Linked DNA regions of Homo sapiens: region 1 is linked to region 2. Evidence: fine-mapped expression QTL. A gene starts in region 2. The other region holds a variant in brackets. All regions are shown on one strand. Distances are from middle to middle.

Region 1 (8,526 bases), 120 kb after region 2:
CTGCATGTGGGCAGATCAGATGTCCGGTGGCTGCTGATGTGGTGAGCACTGGCACAGAGCGATGTGGTGGTGACTTGAGGTCTCAGGAAAGAACTGGGGGTTTCCATTATCCTGGGCTTCCTGGGTAATGCAATCTGAAAATCAATTCTCATTAAACACAAGTGATACTAATACCTCTGACAGGTTACATCTTAAATGATAATTAAAAGCATATTTCCTGACACTTGGCTGCTATGAAATGCAGCCCTATTTATGCCACTGAGGAGGCCTCACAGTGAGGCCCTGTGGACAGCCCCCCCAGGAAGCGTCCGAGGTCCTGGATTGTCACTCATTATTTTAATCTGATTTTCTTTACTCAAGTAAAATAGAACCTGGCATTGGTGCTTTCTTTCACCACTTCCACCAGTGGTCCTTAAAAAACAGTTAACGTTGTCATAAGCCAAGGAATGAAGACTTCATCTTCCACTAACACAGTCTTTGGTTCTAGCCATGGATAGCGCTTATTAATAAGTGCAGCTGCATCCCACTAAGTTTTATAAACCTCTACAATTCATGAGAGCTGTGGCAGCTGAGACGTTACATCCTTCTCTGAGTGTCATGGTGGAAAGCATCTCAGTGTCTGAGGCCGTGGAGTGGGAAGTGGAGCTGCCAGGGTCCTCATGGACACAGACTTTCAGGAAAATATGAGTTTTTACAGTGGCCAGTCACAGTTCCTGATTTGGCACTTTTGGTATCAAAGTGTCTAATTTTATCTCAAAAATTTTCTATTGGGAATAATGGGAAGGTTCAATGTCTCCTACATTTGAACTGGACTTATTGATCATTAAAACAGATCATTAAAACAGAGGAATAGTCAACCAGACCCAAACAAGAAAAAACATATCCATCCTATGTTACATTAGCTTCCCAGGGCTGCCAAAACAAAGTACCACAAACGCAGAGGCTGAAAAGAGCAGAAATTGATCATCTCACAGTCTGGAGGCCGGAAGTCTGCAATCGAGGTGTTGGCAAGGTTGTGCTTTCTCCGAGGCCTCTAGAGAGGATCCTTCCTGCCTCCTCCAGCTCCTGGTTGCCCCATGCATTCCCTGGCTTGTGGCCACATTGCTCCAGTCTCTGCCTTTCTTTTAACCTGGCTATTTTCCCTGTGTTTTTTTCTTTTTCTTAAAAGACATCAGTCATCTTGGATTAGGGGCCCACCCTACTCCATTATGACCTCATGTTAACTAATTACTTTTTTTTTTTTTTTAGATGAAGTCTCACTCTGTCACCCAGGCTGGAGTGCAGTGGTACAATCTCAGTTCACTGCAACCTCTGCCGCCCGGGTTCAAGCGATTCTCCTGCCTCAGCCTCTTGAGTAGCTGGGATTACAGGCGTGAGCCACCGCACCCGGCCAACTAATTACATTTTTAACCACCCTATTTCTAAATAAGGTCACATTCCCAGCTGGGTGCCGTGGCTTACGCCTATAATCCCAGCATGTTGGGAGGCTGAGATAGGTGGATCACTTGAGGCCAGGAGTTCAAGACCAGCCTGGGTAACATGGTGAAACCCCATCTCTACTAAAAATATTAAAAAATTAGCTGGGCGTGGTGGTACATGCCTGTAGTCCCAGCTACTGGGGAGGCTGAGGCATGAGAATCTCTTGAACCCAGGAGGGGGAGGTTGCAGTGACCCAAGAACATGCCACTGTACTCCAGCCTGGATGACAGAGTGAGACTGTGTCTCAAAAAAAATAAAAATAAAAATAAAATAAAAATAAGGTCACATTGTGAGTTACTGGAGGTAAGGACATTAACACATATTTTTAGGTGACACAATTCAACCCATAAGACAGGTGGAAAGAGAGATTAGTTGATAAATGATGTTGGGATTACTGGATAACCATTTAACCACTGGAGGAGGGGGACACATCCGTAATTCTTTACCCTGCTCCTTACACTGAAATGCCAAATGGATCCAAGTTTTAAACGTGGAAAATCATGAAAGTATTAGAATGAGAACAGCCAACTCATAAGACTGACGGGCTGCCATGGTGTGAAAGTGCTTTACACACGTCAAAGCTGAACCCTCACAACAACCCTGCTATTATCTTCAGCTGAGGAAATGGAGGCAGGGAGAAGTTACATAATTTGCCTGAGATCACACAGCTGGGGAGTGCTACAGCTGGGTTCAAACAATGGCAGTCTGTGCTCTTAATCAATTCCATATGATGAGTACAATCTCGGAGGAAGGCAACTCTCATGTCCGGTGCTTACTTTATGCTCTTACGTAGTGCCTGGAAATCTTATAATGCATATAGGTTACTTGAAAATTTATAGGAAGATAATTTGCACCCTCTCTTTCCTCTTCCTCCTGCCTGCCACGGCCTTCCTTCCCAGGCACCCTCTTGGCAGGGCCTAATTAGATGGTTGATCTGCCCCAGATCTGCAGCTGAAGAAGCCTAGTAGCTTCTATGGTGAAACTTGCATTGGAACTACACCCTATTTCCATATCCTTCTGGAATTTTCCATTGATATGGTCTGGCTTCGTGTCCCCACCCTAATCTCATCTTGAATTGTACTCCCGTAATTCCCACATGTTGTGGGAGGGACCTGGTGGGAGATGACTTGAATCACGGGGGTGGTTTCACCCATACTGTTCTTGTGGTGGCAGATAAGTCTCACGAGATCTGATGGGTTTATCAGGGGTTTCCACTTTTGCATTTTCCTCATTTTCTCTTGCCGCCACCATGTATGAAATATCTTTCGCCTCCCACCATGATTCTGAGTCCTTCCCAGCTATGTGGAACTGTAAGTCCAATGAAACCTCTTTTTCTTCCCCGTCTTGGGCATGTCTTTATCAGCAATGTGAAAATGGACTAATACATCTGTTTTCTGTGATGCTGAGCCAAACGACTGCCTCTGATTGGGTCAAGTGCACACCCCCTTTCCAGGGTCTGCAGACGGCTTCCCGGGCATTTGTCTCCATCAGTCTTCTCAAAGGTGCAAGTGCTCGTGAGTCACCTGGAGAATGTGGTGCCAGGTCAATTCCGGTGTTGGGGGAGGGGCATGAGTCTCAGATCCTCTATTTCCAACACTCCCCCAAGGGAGGCCCACACAGATGCCTGTGGACTGTGCTTGGAGTAGCAAATGTCTAAATCTCTCTTCTCTATGAGCTCTAGCTGGTACAACTATGTCCGTCTGAAAATCAGGGCCGTGGACCTTTAACTAAAAAGACCAAAGAACCGAGACTGAAATGCTGTCCTAAAAATCTCTTTCCTAACATGCTCATAGGAGCGTGCCCCAGGGAAGATGAAGAAGAAGCTTAGGGCTGCCAAGCTTTCCTATTCAACTTGTTGAGACTTGGCCCCAAGAAATAAACCCCGCCAAAGCTCCCACGTGGAGGCAGGACTGGTAAAGTGGGGGGAGTCTCCACAGTTAGGCATTTGCCCAAAAAGACCAAGTGGCCAAAAAATAATGCACCACTACACTGATAGTTTGGGAGTTATCTGCTAAGTGTAAGTCCTTGTGCCAGACACACATTTATTTTGTTAATAACAGTAGAGAAATGGGGTAGTGCTCCAGGGTCTTAGAGTACACTTTTCTTCTGGGATCACAAAGTGCTTTAAAGATAATATCTTATCCCTATGCAAAAACAGCCATCTCTTCCCCTTGCCAGAGGAAAGATACTACCAAATGATGTCTTAATGATCACCTAAGCGTGATGGCAGAGTCACAGCCAATAACCAAGGCTCTAGACTCTCACTTCTGTGAGTGCTTATTGCTAAGTTCGCATTAGCAGGGAAAGAAAAGGTACTGGCATGTACTGAACCCCATTCACCAGGCACTTTGTCAGGTCCTTCTTACAGGGGATTGCATCAGAGTAAACAAGGGACCAGAATCAAACTACTAACTCAACCTACTGATATTCAAAGTAAATATTGATTACGGATATAGAAAGTCATTATTCCATATAGTATATTAGGAGAGTGGGGCATCACAGGCAAAACACCATCTTTGTGGTCACCAAAAAGTTGCTGGAAGATTAAGGGATTCTGAAATGGCACCCTTGACACTTTACTGGTATATGTCCACTACTGCAAACACTGAGATATTTGTTTTATGCTATTTAAACAGATACGTGCCACATACTTGTTAGGTAAGCACAAAGCCTGTTAATTAGGGGACATGAACATAAGCAGGAATGATAATGACGTCTGTCTTCAAGGAACCTACTGTTTGGTAGAAAGATAAGAAAGGCAAGTATATAATAATTTCATCATTTACCAGCTGGGGAAGTTGAAAAATGATATTTAGATATCCTCTCTGTTTTGGGAAGTAGGACGGATCATGGAAGCAGCCAGGAGGAATCAGCAAGGGAAGATGAGATGGGGTCGGTTTGGGGCAGAGGATGCCCCCTGCACACTGAGGAGTAGTACACCCACTCCAGCAGCCTGGCAAACCCAGCAGCACTCACTCACACTGACCCTGTCTCCCTAGAAGCCCCGTCTCTGCTGCAGGTGGAGTTTGCAGCCAGCAGGAGGATTCCCATCAGCCCTGTCAACGTTATCACCAGTTCTGAGTAAGGAGCAGTGGTGAACTTTGTTCCCTGGGTCACTGGAACTCCAGTAGAATTGCTGATTAAAATGGGCTGTCAGGCCACCCAGGGATTCCAGGCCACGCCTACCGCACTCCACTCATGCCAGAGGGGACCTTCTTTTCAATGACACATACAGGTCCCAGATGGTGGGTAGCCTACCACTGCCAAGAAGTAAAAAATCCCCAAAAACTCCACTTCAAATTAAGTTTCTGAATTCCTTGGTGTTCTTTTGTAGACAAAGTAGAGTAGAGACGTTTGCAAATCTCTTCCTGAACCCTTGAACCGTAAGAGTTAGCCCATGCGGGTCCACCAGTCATTACTCACCTCTCCTCCTACTCGCATTCCACCCCCTACAGCTCCTGGAATCTCCCGGAGGTGAGAATCCCTGAGGCCCAAACACTCAGAACACCCTGCAAACTCCCAAAGCCCCGCCGAAAAGACAGGGGGAAGGGGGCGTTCAGGACTTTCCCTTTCGGATCTTGGGCCTGCGCTCATGTACTGGCCTGGTCTTAGCCAGTTAAACTCTCACACGCAAAACCCAGAATTCCAATCCCAAAG[G/T]GTCCTTGATCCCTCTCCAGCCTGTCTCGCATCATGCAGGGCAAACTGTCCAAGCAGGCCTGCTTGGGATGTGGGCCGGCTGTGTTATGGAAACACTGCACGGGGCCATGGCAACAGCAACGGCAGCCCCATCCTCCCCTCCTGGGAGACGTGAGCCCAGATGCCTGCACACAGGACCAGCCGTCTGCACAGGCAACCTTATTCTAACAAGGAATGAGCCTACGTGGCCTTTGGACAGTGAATGACTCCACAGGTCCTAAGAGCCATACCTGTGGTTACAGTCGTGGGATACAAAGAAGGAAAGAGACATACTTGTTTCAGCTCCATTTTCCTCTGCATAGGATAGCTTTGCTTTTTGGATAAGGAAGAGAATTTATGTCAGGCTTTCACTCCTTTCTTTGTATGTGACACTATTGAGGCCTCCCCACCCATGCACCTACTGTTTGCACGCTGTTTGGTGATAAGCCATGGGGTTTTCTCCCAGGAAACCAACTGTCTCTGTCCTCAGGTAGTTTACCATCAGACGTGAAAAACACCAAATGAGGCTTCTTTTTGAACTTTAATCTTTGCTTTAAAAATATAAAGGGAGTGAAATGGTGCAACTAACACGCTACAGTAAATTTATTTTTCACCCAGTCAATCACATAGCTGTTATTTGTCAACTGATAATGGAAACAAAAGTCTGTTATCTGTGAATGGAGACCTGGTGGCCAGTGGCCGGTGGTATCAACTTGCATCTCTCCTAAACCTAACATCCTTCCAGGGTGCATTTTACTGTCGCAAATTGGTGAGGGCTTTAGACAATCAATACAAAGTAATCATAAGATTAAATTAATAGAACACAATTTGGAAAGGATGGCTTGGCATGAAGACAACATGTCATGTTCTAAACCAAAAAGTGGATTGTTCCCTTTTTGGATATGTAATATAATGGTTCCATTCCTCTACATTCTCTATCTCTCTCTCTTTTTTTTTTTTTTTTTTTTTTGAGACAGAGTCTCACTCTGTCACCCAGGCTGGAGAGCAGTAGTGCAATCTCAGCTCACTGCAACCTCTTCCTCCCAGGTACAAGCGATTCTCATGCCTCAGCCTCCCAAGTAGCTGGGATTATAGGTGCTCACTACCACGCCTGGCTAATTTTTTGTATTTTTAGCAGAGATGGGGTTTCGCCATGTTGGCCAGGCTGGTCTCGAACTCCTGACCTCAAGTGATCTTCCTGCCTCGGCCTCCCAAAGTGCTGGCATTACAGGCACCGGCCCCCTCTCCTTTTTATCTCCAGGGTGTCCACAGCTGCTGAGCACATCTTGAGATCTGCTTTGTGCTTCTAATCAAGGCACATTCTTTAAGTTTTTGGGGATGGAGGGAGGGTCCACTACCCCCTCTGCCAAGGGTGTTCCTGAAGCCAGCTGGGAGCAGGAATTGTAAGCAAGGAGATGGGAGGGGAACAAACACAGATTCTCTCCCCACTGGGCTGTGCAGATTAAGAGAGATACATAAACTCCAGTCCACTGGGAAAACAGCGTAAGTTCATAGAAATTGCCTATGACAAATCAGAGGCATTGCATTAGATGGAGCTGGAGTGCTTTGTGGGAAGGACTTTTAGACTCCTTCCAAAAAATAAACCCCAAGGCTCACTCTCAGTCACTTTGCTAATTCTAACCAGTATTAACTTGACCTGATAGAGACTTAATTCCCACCCACTCCCAGTTTTTGGAGCAACTTGAAGTAGCCCTTCCTTTCACCCTCCCACCATCTATCTGCTCTTCTCCCACACAAAGGCACTAAATGAGGAGCACCCAACCAGATTCCATGAATTCTCACCCTTCCCATCTTCTCTCTTTCTCACCACACCCAGAGTTCAATGCCTTAGTGCATTTTATGCTTACCTCTAAACAATTATGAAACAGTCCAATTCTTTCCACCCCCAGAGGTACGAAACCGTGATTGCATGAAGATCAGATAAACAAAACCAAATCTGACATTTATTTTCCTGTCTTTGAAGGGCAACTGAGCACTCCCGTGAGATGTCACATCCTTCTAATAGGTCAGGGGGCTGCAGTTTTCTTCCATGTTGATATGTAGCCCAGGGAGACTAACTTTACGGTGACGTCATGAATGTATAATCAAATCAAGAACCATTCACTGAATGCCCACTCTGTGCATGACACAGGGAGAGGGGCCAAGGGCCTATTATCTGGTTTTGAGGCAAACAGGCACACAAGGAAATTAACTCATGAGAGGAGGAAGTATATCAAGGCTCTGTCGGTGCTACAGGAAGTAAAAGTTCAGAGAAGAGAGAGAATATTGTGAACTAGAGCAGCTAGAGGAGGCATGGGGTGAGGGTATGGTTGGGCAGAAGCCAAAAGGGGAGGCAGAAATACCCAACACCTACTGTGAGAAGACAGCCCTTCCTGGGACAGATGGAAGGTTGGCATTAGAGAGGGGTGGGACATCATATCATGGTGGCAAAGGTCATCTGCTCTTTAGAGTGTCCAACTTCCATAAAGAATAATTCATATGGCTTTCTGGGGCAATCCTGCACCGTGGATTCTGAGGCCAATTGTATTTTCCAAAAAGGGACACTGCACTATTTCTAGTCCCACATGCTCTTCTGTACCTTGCCACTATGCCCAGCAAGAGGTAGGATCTATTTTGCCATTCCATTGAATTCAGGTGGGCCTTTGTGGTCATCTCGATGAATAGATGGCAATGGAAGTGAGGCTACATGGCTCTTGAGACAGGTCACAAACAGTGATACAGCTGCTGTCCTCTCTCTCTTAGGACACTCATCATTGAAATCCAGCCGCCATGTTGTGAGGAAGCACATGGTGCTTCCATGTTGTGAGGTCACATCGTGAGGCCACGCGTAGCTGTCCGGCAGACAAGCCTAGCTCAGGTCCTAGCCAAAAGTCAGTGTGAATCCCTGGGCATGTGAATGACTGAGCTTCAGATAATTTTAGCCCCCTGCCTTTGAACTGTCCCGGCTGACAGTGAGCAGAGCAGAGACAAGCTTTCCTTGTCAAGCCCTGCCTGAATTGCAGATTCAAGAGCAAAATAAGTGTTTTTGTTGTTTTTCGCCGCTATGTTTGGGGATAGTTTGTTACACAGTACTTGATAAATGGAACAGATTCCATATCTACCCCTTACTTAGTTGTACTAAAACTCCAACAGGAAATCAGAGTATCTGAAAATTCAGCCATGTTAAAGTGACACTATGATTGAATGTATATTGCTTTTTGTTTCAATGATGCTGATAAACTTGTTTTTCGGGTTCAATTTTCTACTTAGGCTGCATTAGGAGAATGCTTTACTTCTCTTTATCTAAACTTTTCTTCTTGTTCCTGTAGCTCAGTGATGAGTAGTGGCTTAGAGCTTTGTCTACGTTACTGT
Region 2 (8,000 bases):
GTCCTTCATGAAGCCTTCCAGACCACAAATACAATCACAATCTTGTCCCTTCTCCTCTTAGGAAATCACTACTGAGTTCAAATTTTGTCCATTTTGTTAGCTCCATCTTCATATCTAAATGGTAACTTCTTCAAGGTCACGGAGTCTGTCTAAAACTTGTCATATTACACACAACTAGCACAGGGTAACATAATGGCAGATATACATTTTTTCATTCATTCATCAAGCATACAGCACGTCTACTCTATTCCAGGCCATGTGTCAGAGCCTGAGGATGTCAAAACAAGAATGATAGAATCCTTGACCATGAAGAAATCAGAGTCTAATTTAGGTCTCAAATCTGCAAGCCAATAATTAAAATATGGTAAGTGTTACACTTTGTGAACAGTTGAGTTCAGCAATCACCAATCATATATTAGAAAACTGCATTCCCTATTTCTTCCTTCACAAATCTCTGTGGACAAAACTCAGTGTTTGGTGAAGCAGATGAAAAGTAGGTATAACTAGACTCCTGACACGCTATAACTGGGCTCCCGAGAAATCATCAAGTCAAAGTCAAAAGGAACCCATTTCCTCCCTAGTAGTCCCCTCTAATCAAGAAAAAAAAAAAGCCAAGGTTGTAAAAACCTGTAGCGATTCTACACAGTTGTCAGGGGGCCAAGAGAAACACACAAGGCCATATAAGTAGATAAAAAAGGAGTAGACCAAGGATGGGGAGAAAGAGCTGTCCCAAATAGAACAATGGCCTTACAGAGGCTCAGAAGGGAGGATGAGAGAGGGAGAGGAGGTGGAGACCAAAGAACTGGGTGGTGGCTTAACTCTAACCATAGCTAGATTTAGGAGCTATGGGGTGTCAGGATGTAAAATCAAGGGAGAGGTTTAAAAGAAAACAAACAGGCAGCCTGCTTTCAACTCGTTAATCTCGTTAAGTCATGGTTGTTTTGACCATGATTTTGGGCCCATCTATTGGTAGTCTCCAGTAGGAGACCAGGATAAAGGGATAACTCTCACAAGTGTGATTCGACAATTCTGGAATACTTTGGCCCATCATTCAGTTACTTGAGGGAATGATTTCCTAGAAGTGGCGTGGACAGAGCAGCATCTCTGGCCCAGGAGAAACAGCTCCTGTTCATTCTTGGACTCTGAGTCCCTTGTCGCTGAGCTCTGCCTCTAGATCCTGTCCGTGAACCCCGGGGGCCTTCCCTGTGATTTGTCACTCGTGGCACATGGTCCTGGTGAATGAATTGAGCTAGACATCGTGCAGGGTCTTTTCTAGCTTTGAGATTTTATGTGTTCAGTAACTGGAAATTCAGCTCCTCCTGGAGGTAAAATGAGAAACATGGAATCAAAGGACAAATGTATGTGGGGACACCTTGGCCCTTATTTATAAGGCTGATATAAATCACTGTCTTTGCTTGTTGACAGTCTTGGAAAACTTTCACTAGGTCTTATTTTTATCACACCTACCTAGATTTTAAAGATCATCATAGAGATACACAGGTGTCACATAGAATACTGAACTATTACAGCTTGAAAATAATAGGAAGTTCAGAAACTCTGTCAAGTCATACAGCTAGGTAGCGGTCAAGTTTGCACTATAGCCCAGCCCCACCTCCCTGGCACAGCCTGGCTCTACCATCCACACTCATTCCTCCCATCTACTAATCTCATTCATCAAAAGGTCCTTAAGTGCTAACAATATATTTAGCACAGTTCTAGAAGTTGGGGGAGAGGCTTGTCCTCAAAGAACAGATCCAGTTGGAGAAACTGGCTTTATATTAAACAAACAACACATTAGAACCACAGTCTAGGGTAGAATCAGAGGGTCCTCCCAGATGAAAATAAAACTCACTTTTCTTAACATTAGACTGCTGTAAAACCCAGTTAGTATGAATTTGGGAAAAAAAAAGAGATCAGATATAAAGGCAAAAATAGTTTAATATGGGCCCTTTCAGCATTTCAAGTTAGGGATGGCAGGGAAGGAAAGACGATGGAGTCTCTGTTCTGTTGCAATCATGGGTTGAAATAATGGCCGCTGTATGGTTCCCTATTGCAAATAAACTGGCTTTGTCCAATTCAACTTCTGGTTCACAAATAGTTACTTTCCTCTGGAGGGAAAAATAACCGGCTACAGTTGTTTCTTATTGGTTGCATGCTGACTAGTGGTTAGGCTATTAAAGGATTAACTGCTGATGACAATAATTTTCCTTTCATTTATTTCACAGTAGCAAGGTGTTTGTTTTTAACCTCTCCTAATTCATTAAACAAAGAGCATTTCAACAAGAATAGATATTTTCGAGGATCTCACCACAAACTAACCTACCCACTGCTTTTATTTTTCATGTTTTTTTTTTCTAGTTATGTCCCTCCATATGTATTTCTACCTAATTGCAATCATACTGTTGATACGATTTGGTGATGTGATTTTCTCTTTAGATTACACTGTCAACATTCTCCATGTTTCTGGAGACGTCGCACGATTATTTAATGGCCCCATAGTAACCTGCATGGAATAGTATTCTCTATTCCATGGTCCGAAGTTAGCCCCTTCCCTGTTCTTGGTCCTTAAAGGGTCTGTCACTCACCTCACCTATTTAGATGAAATTATCACAGAGACATAAAAAACATCCTTTGCAACATGAAATAAACAAGTAGCCCCAACTGCAATGTGTATCACCAGATAAAAAAGACGCACTCAGCCTGTAGAAGGCCAGGTGTGGACGGCTGGTGGGTAAGAATTCTTCCAATGGCAGGATGGAAGTATCACCAATAGTTTGTAACTAAGATACATACTGGCACTCACTTACATGATTAATAACCAGAAACTCAGAAATACTACACGCTACCAAGATACTTCCCTCGTCTCCTCTGTTTCCTTAGAACATAAAGGCTGGCAGCCTTGCTAGTCCCTCCTGCGCTAGACTGCAGGTAGTATCCTTTGTCCTGCCTATTAAGCGTCCCTGGCCAATGCAGAGGGGACGATCTGCCGGCTTCAGGCTGGCAGGTGCGGGGTGGGCTGTGTGCTGAGGACCAGGCTGGCCTTCTCGCGTCCTCTGGCGACAGAAATTAAGCAAGTCCGCAAAGAAGCATATTGCACCTTGAGGGAGAGGAAGAAAGAGTTGCGGGGGCGCGTGGGGTAGGGCCCGGGAGGCAGTGGGTGTTGGCAAGAAACGGAGTAGGAGGCTCTACAGAGGAGACTGGTCCTTGGTTAAGTGTCACAGCCGCAGGATGGGAGGGTGTGGGAGGGGTCCGTGGGGCCAACACAGGTGGCCCCTGCTGTGCGCGGCGAGGCAGGCTTGGAATGCCTTCTCCCCGAACAGAGCTAGCCCAGCACTGGGGGCTGGAGGCGCGGCTCTGGTGGGACTGAGGCCGGGAAGCGGCGCCGGGCGGGGTGGGGACTGGGGAGGAGGCGGGGCTGGTGTGGGGGCCACAGGGAGGCGGGCCGGGTTTAAGGGGGTGGCTGTAGGTGGGGTCTGGGAAGTTGGCCTCGGTGGGGACAGGGACAGGAGAGGTGGGGCCGGGACTGGGGAGGTGGGGGGAAATGGGGGCGTGGAGAAACGGAGCTTGGGGTTGGGGACCTGGGGAAGCTGGGTCCTGACTGGGGACAGGGAGGCGAGGCCGGGCTTGGGGGGTGTCCAGGGAGGCAGGGTGTGGGAAGGTCTGGGGCGGGGAAGTGGGGTCTGGGCTGGGGTGGGAGAGTTGGAGTCCAGAAGGGGACCGCGGGGTGGAAGGGGTCCGGGCTGGGACCGGGGTAGGCGGAGTCCAGGAGGGGACGCAGGGTGGGCGGGGTCCGGGCTGGGTCCGTGGGGTGGGCGGGGTCCGGGCTGGGACGCGGGGTGGGCGGGGTCCGGGCTGGGTCCGTGGGGTGGGCGGGGTCCGGGCTGGGTCCGTGGGGTGGGCGGAGTCCAGGAGGGGACCGCAGGGTGGGCGGGGTCCGGGCTGGGTCCGTGGGGTGGGCGGGGTCCGGGCTGGGTCCGTGGGGTGGGCGGGGTCCGGGCTGGGACCGCGGGGTGGGCGGGGTCCGGGCTGGGTCCGTGGGGTGGGCGGGGTCCGGGCTGGGACCGCGGGGTGGGCGGCCCCGAGAGCGTCCCGCAGTGGCTGGAGCCCTGGGCGCTGCAAAGCGTGTCCCGCCGGGTCCCCGAGCGTCCCGCGCCCTCGCCCCGCCATGCTCCTGCTGCTGGGGCTGTGCCTGGGGCTGTCCCTGTGTGTGGGGTCGCAGGAAGAGGCGCAGAGCTGGGGCCACTCTTCGGAGCAGGTAAGTGGAGCCGAGGGGAGCCGGGTCCCGGGCGCGGCCGCCCCCTTCCCTCCGCCGGCCCGGCCGCGGAGCTTCTGCCCGGGCCCCCTTCGACCGTCTCCCAGGCCCCCACCAGAGGCCCAGGGGTCCCTCTCTGTGGGTCACTCGTGCGTCACCTCTGTGTGAGCCGCGGTGCCTGATCTGGCCTGAGGCTTCCTGCAGAACTGTGCCCGGGACTTGTCCTGCGGAGCCGAGTTTTTCTTCTTGGCTCCTGTTGATTGCGCAGATTTCTGTTCGTCGTTGTTAATTTCTGAGGTAGCTCCAAAAGTTATTATAATTACAAGGTTTTTTCCTTATCACGCGTGGGGGGCAGTCTGCTGTTATCATCATTCCCAGTTGATCCAGGGAGAAAGGCAATATGAGAGGAGTTCTAGACTCCTGGGAGCCTCAGCTTTTCCCACCTGAAAACCGGGAGAACACGACTTTCCCATTTAGCGACTACCTACCGGTGGTTTAGCATTTAAAGGTGGCACCGAGAGCCAAAGCGTCTGAGTTCCTCGAGTTGCTGGTCTGTGCGTTTGTCAGGATTTGTGTTTCAAATGTCTTAACCTCGCAGGCGAATAAAACCTGCAAATATGAAATGTCAATAAAATGATGAATAGAGCATTTTTGTCTTTAAAAAGTATGAAGCGGGTTCACACAAATAGCATTGAGAGCTAATGTGCAACATGGCCCTGTCACAAAGTAGAAGTGCTTTCACACACATGCCATTTAAATATTTAAGCCGTTTAGCTTCCAGCGTGTTTGTGCACGGTGGGAGGAAGATACAAGTAGGCGGACCTTTTCTCCCTTTTCCAGCCCCTGTTTTGAAGAGCAGTTTTGAAGCCCAACTGCCTAAATATGAAGACAGTTATCTTCATGTTCTCTGTCCTGTGAATGTGCTTAACAGTAAAGTGGTAGTAATGATACTTCCTTCTAGGGGGGGAGTAGCTAATAAAATCCCAGGAGGCATCGTAGTGATGTTGGAAAAGTGCAGGCTTTGGATGCAGAGACAGGCTGGGCTTTAGTTGTGTGTTCCGGGCAAGCCCTTTAATCTCTCAGAGCCTTCATGTCCTCGTTGGTCAGGGCAGGGAATGCGGCTCTTTTTGAGCAAACTTGCAAGGACTCAGCTAATTTGTGTTAAGCACCTGGTATACAGTGGACGCTCAATAACTGGGAGATGTTTTAGTAGATGGCTGAAGGCATGGGCTTGGTACCAGGATGTCTGGGACCACTTGATTCTTGATTCTGTCACTTATCAGCTCTGGGACCCTGATCAAGTGCCTTTCGGCCTTATATTCCTCTTCTGTGAAATGTGGAGAAATGATAGGGTTGTGAGGACTGAATGCATTATGACACCCAAGTGCTTAAAACACTGTCAGCACTTAATGCTGGCCATGGTCTTAGACTCATGCTGCTGACATGCTGAGTGAAGGAATTTAGGGTAAAGATCTTGAAACTTTTTTGGGGGTGTGGAGACAGGACAGTGTGGGATGGACTGAAACAAAGATTCTGTGTCTGAACTAGGAAGGCTGTTTAAACTCTAGCATATACCAAGTTCAAGTAGGCTTCACAGTCTATGGACTTGCTGTCATAAAAAAACATGGCTTGACCTCTTTTAGTGATTTCATGCTGTCTTCAACCCAGCACAATATTTATTTATCTTGAAAATGACTAAATCAGGAAAAAAAATCCAAGGTATAAAGTTCTATGAACTTGCAATTTTACCTTTTATCCCTAATCCGTTCTTTTTTATATTTAGTTTTTGTGATATAGGGTTTGAGAGCATAGGCTTTAGCACCAGAATTCTGGGTTCAAATCTTGGCTCTGCACTTACTGAGGAGTTACTTAACGTTTGTGAGCCTCTATCTCTGTATGGGGATGATGCAATTACTTAGGATTTTGAAAAGTGAAACAATTAATATACTTAAATCTTAGAACAGAACCTGGGAATGTAATGAGCACTCTATTCTCAATCATTATGGTCTTTAAAATTGTATGTAAACTTAATTTGAAAAATGTAAGTCTATGCAAATCTTATGCAAATTTTAATATAGCTGAATATGACTATTAACTTGCATTGCAGTTATTTGTCATTCACCTGTAATTGGAAATATACCAGTAACACCTTAGATTCAAGTTCCTTCACCTCTCACCCTTCACCCCATCTGTAGACAGTGGGTACTCAGTAACCCATAGTGGAATGACTCCTAAAAGCAGTGGTTTTCACCCTTGGGGTGGAAAAAGTCACTTGGGGTGTTCATTAAACATTCAGCTTCCTGAGTTCCACTTCCATTGGTTTAGATCCATTGGGTTTGGGATGGGGCGCAGATGATTCTGATGCAGGTGGTCCATGGAACACATTTTAGTTTTTTTTTTTTTTTTGAGACGGAATCTCGCTGTGTCGCCCAGGCTGGAGTGCAGTGGCAGGCTCTCTGCTCTCTGCAACCTCTGGCTCCTGGGTTCAAGTGATTCTCATGCCTCAGCCTCCCAAGCAGATGGGATTACAGGTGCACTCCACCATGCCTGGCTAATTTTTGTATTTTTAATAGAGACAAAAATACATCACGTTGGCCAGGCTGGTCTCAAACTCCTGAGCTCAAGTGATCCACCTGCCCTGGCCTCCCAAAGTGCTGGGATTACAGGCATAAGCCACTGTGCCTAGCCGCACACTTTGAATAGTAGTATTTTTAAAGGATATTTTGGGAAATTAGTATTTAAAAGAAAATCCCTTGTATAAAAACTGTCTGCTACAGACTTATCTGTTTTGTTAGCTTAAATTTATATGGTGTCTTTAAAGATAGAGTTATATTCCCATTATTATCAAAGCAGTTTTAGATTGACAAAATAGTAAAAGCCACCAGTTATTGAGTATCTGTAATGTCCCAATGTCTCAGGGAGTTTGCTAGGAGCTTTATGTGAAAATAATAAGAGGCAATAATGTATTCTGGTTGAGTACTCCATGTGGTGCCGGACTGCCTGGGCTCATATCTGGACCCCATCACTTACTGCCTGTGTGTACCTGGGCAAGTCACTTAACCTCTCTGGGTCTCAGTTTCATCATCTGCAATATAGAGTTGTTAATAATTCCTACTACATAGGCAGGGGTGGATCTAGGCTTTGGGAGGAGAGTAAAGTTTATACAATTTGCAGGACCCTCTTGAAGGAAAAAAGTATCAAATTATAACTACAAAATTAGGTGCTAAAATGACTATTTATTTAGAAAGATAAAGAAAGCACAACAAATTACACATTTTGACAATCTGACAGGCACCACAAACATCACGCATTTTTAGGGGCTTGCACAAGTGAGGTGTCCTGGAGCTTATGTTTTATTAGCATGTAAATAATAATTTAATTTTTATAAAAATAACAGTTCTGCTTTTATGGTTGTTCGAGGATTAAATGAGTTAATTCAGGCAAAGCATTTGCATATAGTAAACACTTAGGTAATATTAGCTGCTTTTACTATTTATGCACAGCCTAGTTAAGTCTCTGACTACCGCTGTAATGTCTCAATGTACTTATTTGACAAAGGACAACCAGGAAGTCCTTTCTGAGAAGTGACAGCTGCAACAACCTACTATGTGCAAAGCCTGGATTGGAGTGTAGGTGTGCCGAACACCAAAGCTGGGGCTCTCAGCAAATCCTTCAAACAGCAAGCCATGTTCACTTTTATAATTTAGTTGAATTTATTTAAATGTGATTTGTATTTGTAGCTCATGGC

Alleles and levels. Positions count from the first base shown, and alleles are read on the strand shown. Sizes are in standard deviations (SD) of each study's normalised expression.
With allele G in place of T in region 1, the expression in ovary of the gene that starts at base 4,092 in region 2 is lower (moderate effect, 0.46 SD a copy in GTEx).

Evidence for each region.
Region 1: its variant is fine-mapped to the expression of ITIH5 in ovary (GTEx, PIP above 0.99). The same link has a PIP of 0.9 or more in lung and testis.

The regions. Positions count from the first base shown.
Region 1 is chr10:7,538,013-7,546,538 of GRCh38, reverse strand. LOC105376391 (a long non-coding RNA gene) reads right to left here and starts at 5,140. Exons shown (of 2, transcript XR_930632.2): 1 at 4,903-5,140. RefSeq lists enhancers at 4,191-5,050, 6,988-8,187. The variant G/T (reference allele first, on the strand shown) is at 5,137.
Region 2 is chr10:7,663,058-7,671,057 of GRCh38, reverse strand. It overlaps ITIH5 (inter-alpha-trypsin inhibitor heavy chain 5), which reads left to right and starts at 4,092. Exons shown (of 14, transcript NM_030569.7): 1 at 4,092-4,255. The coding sequence starts at 4,166.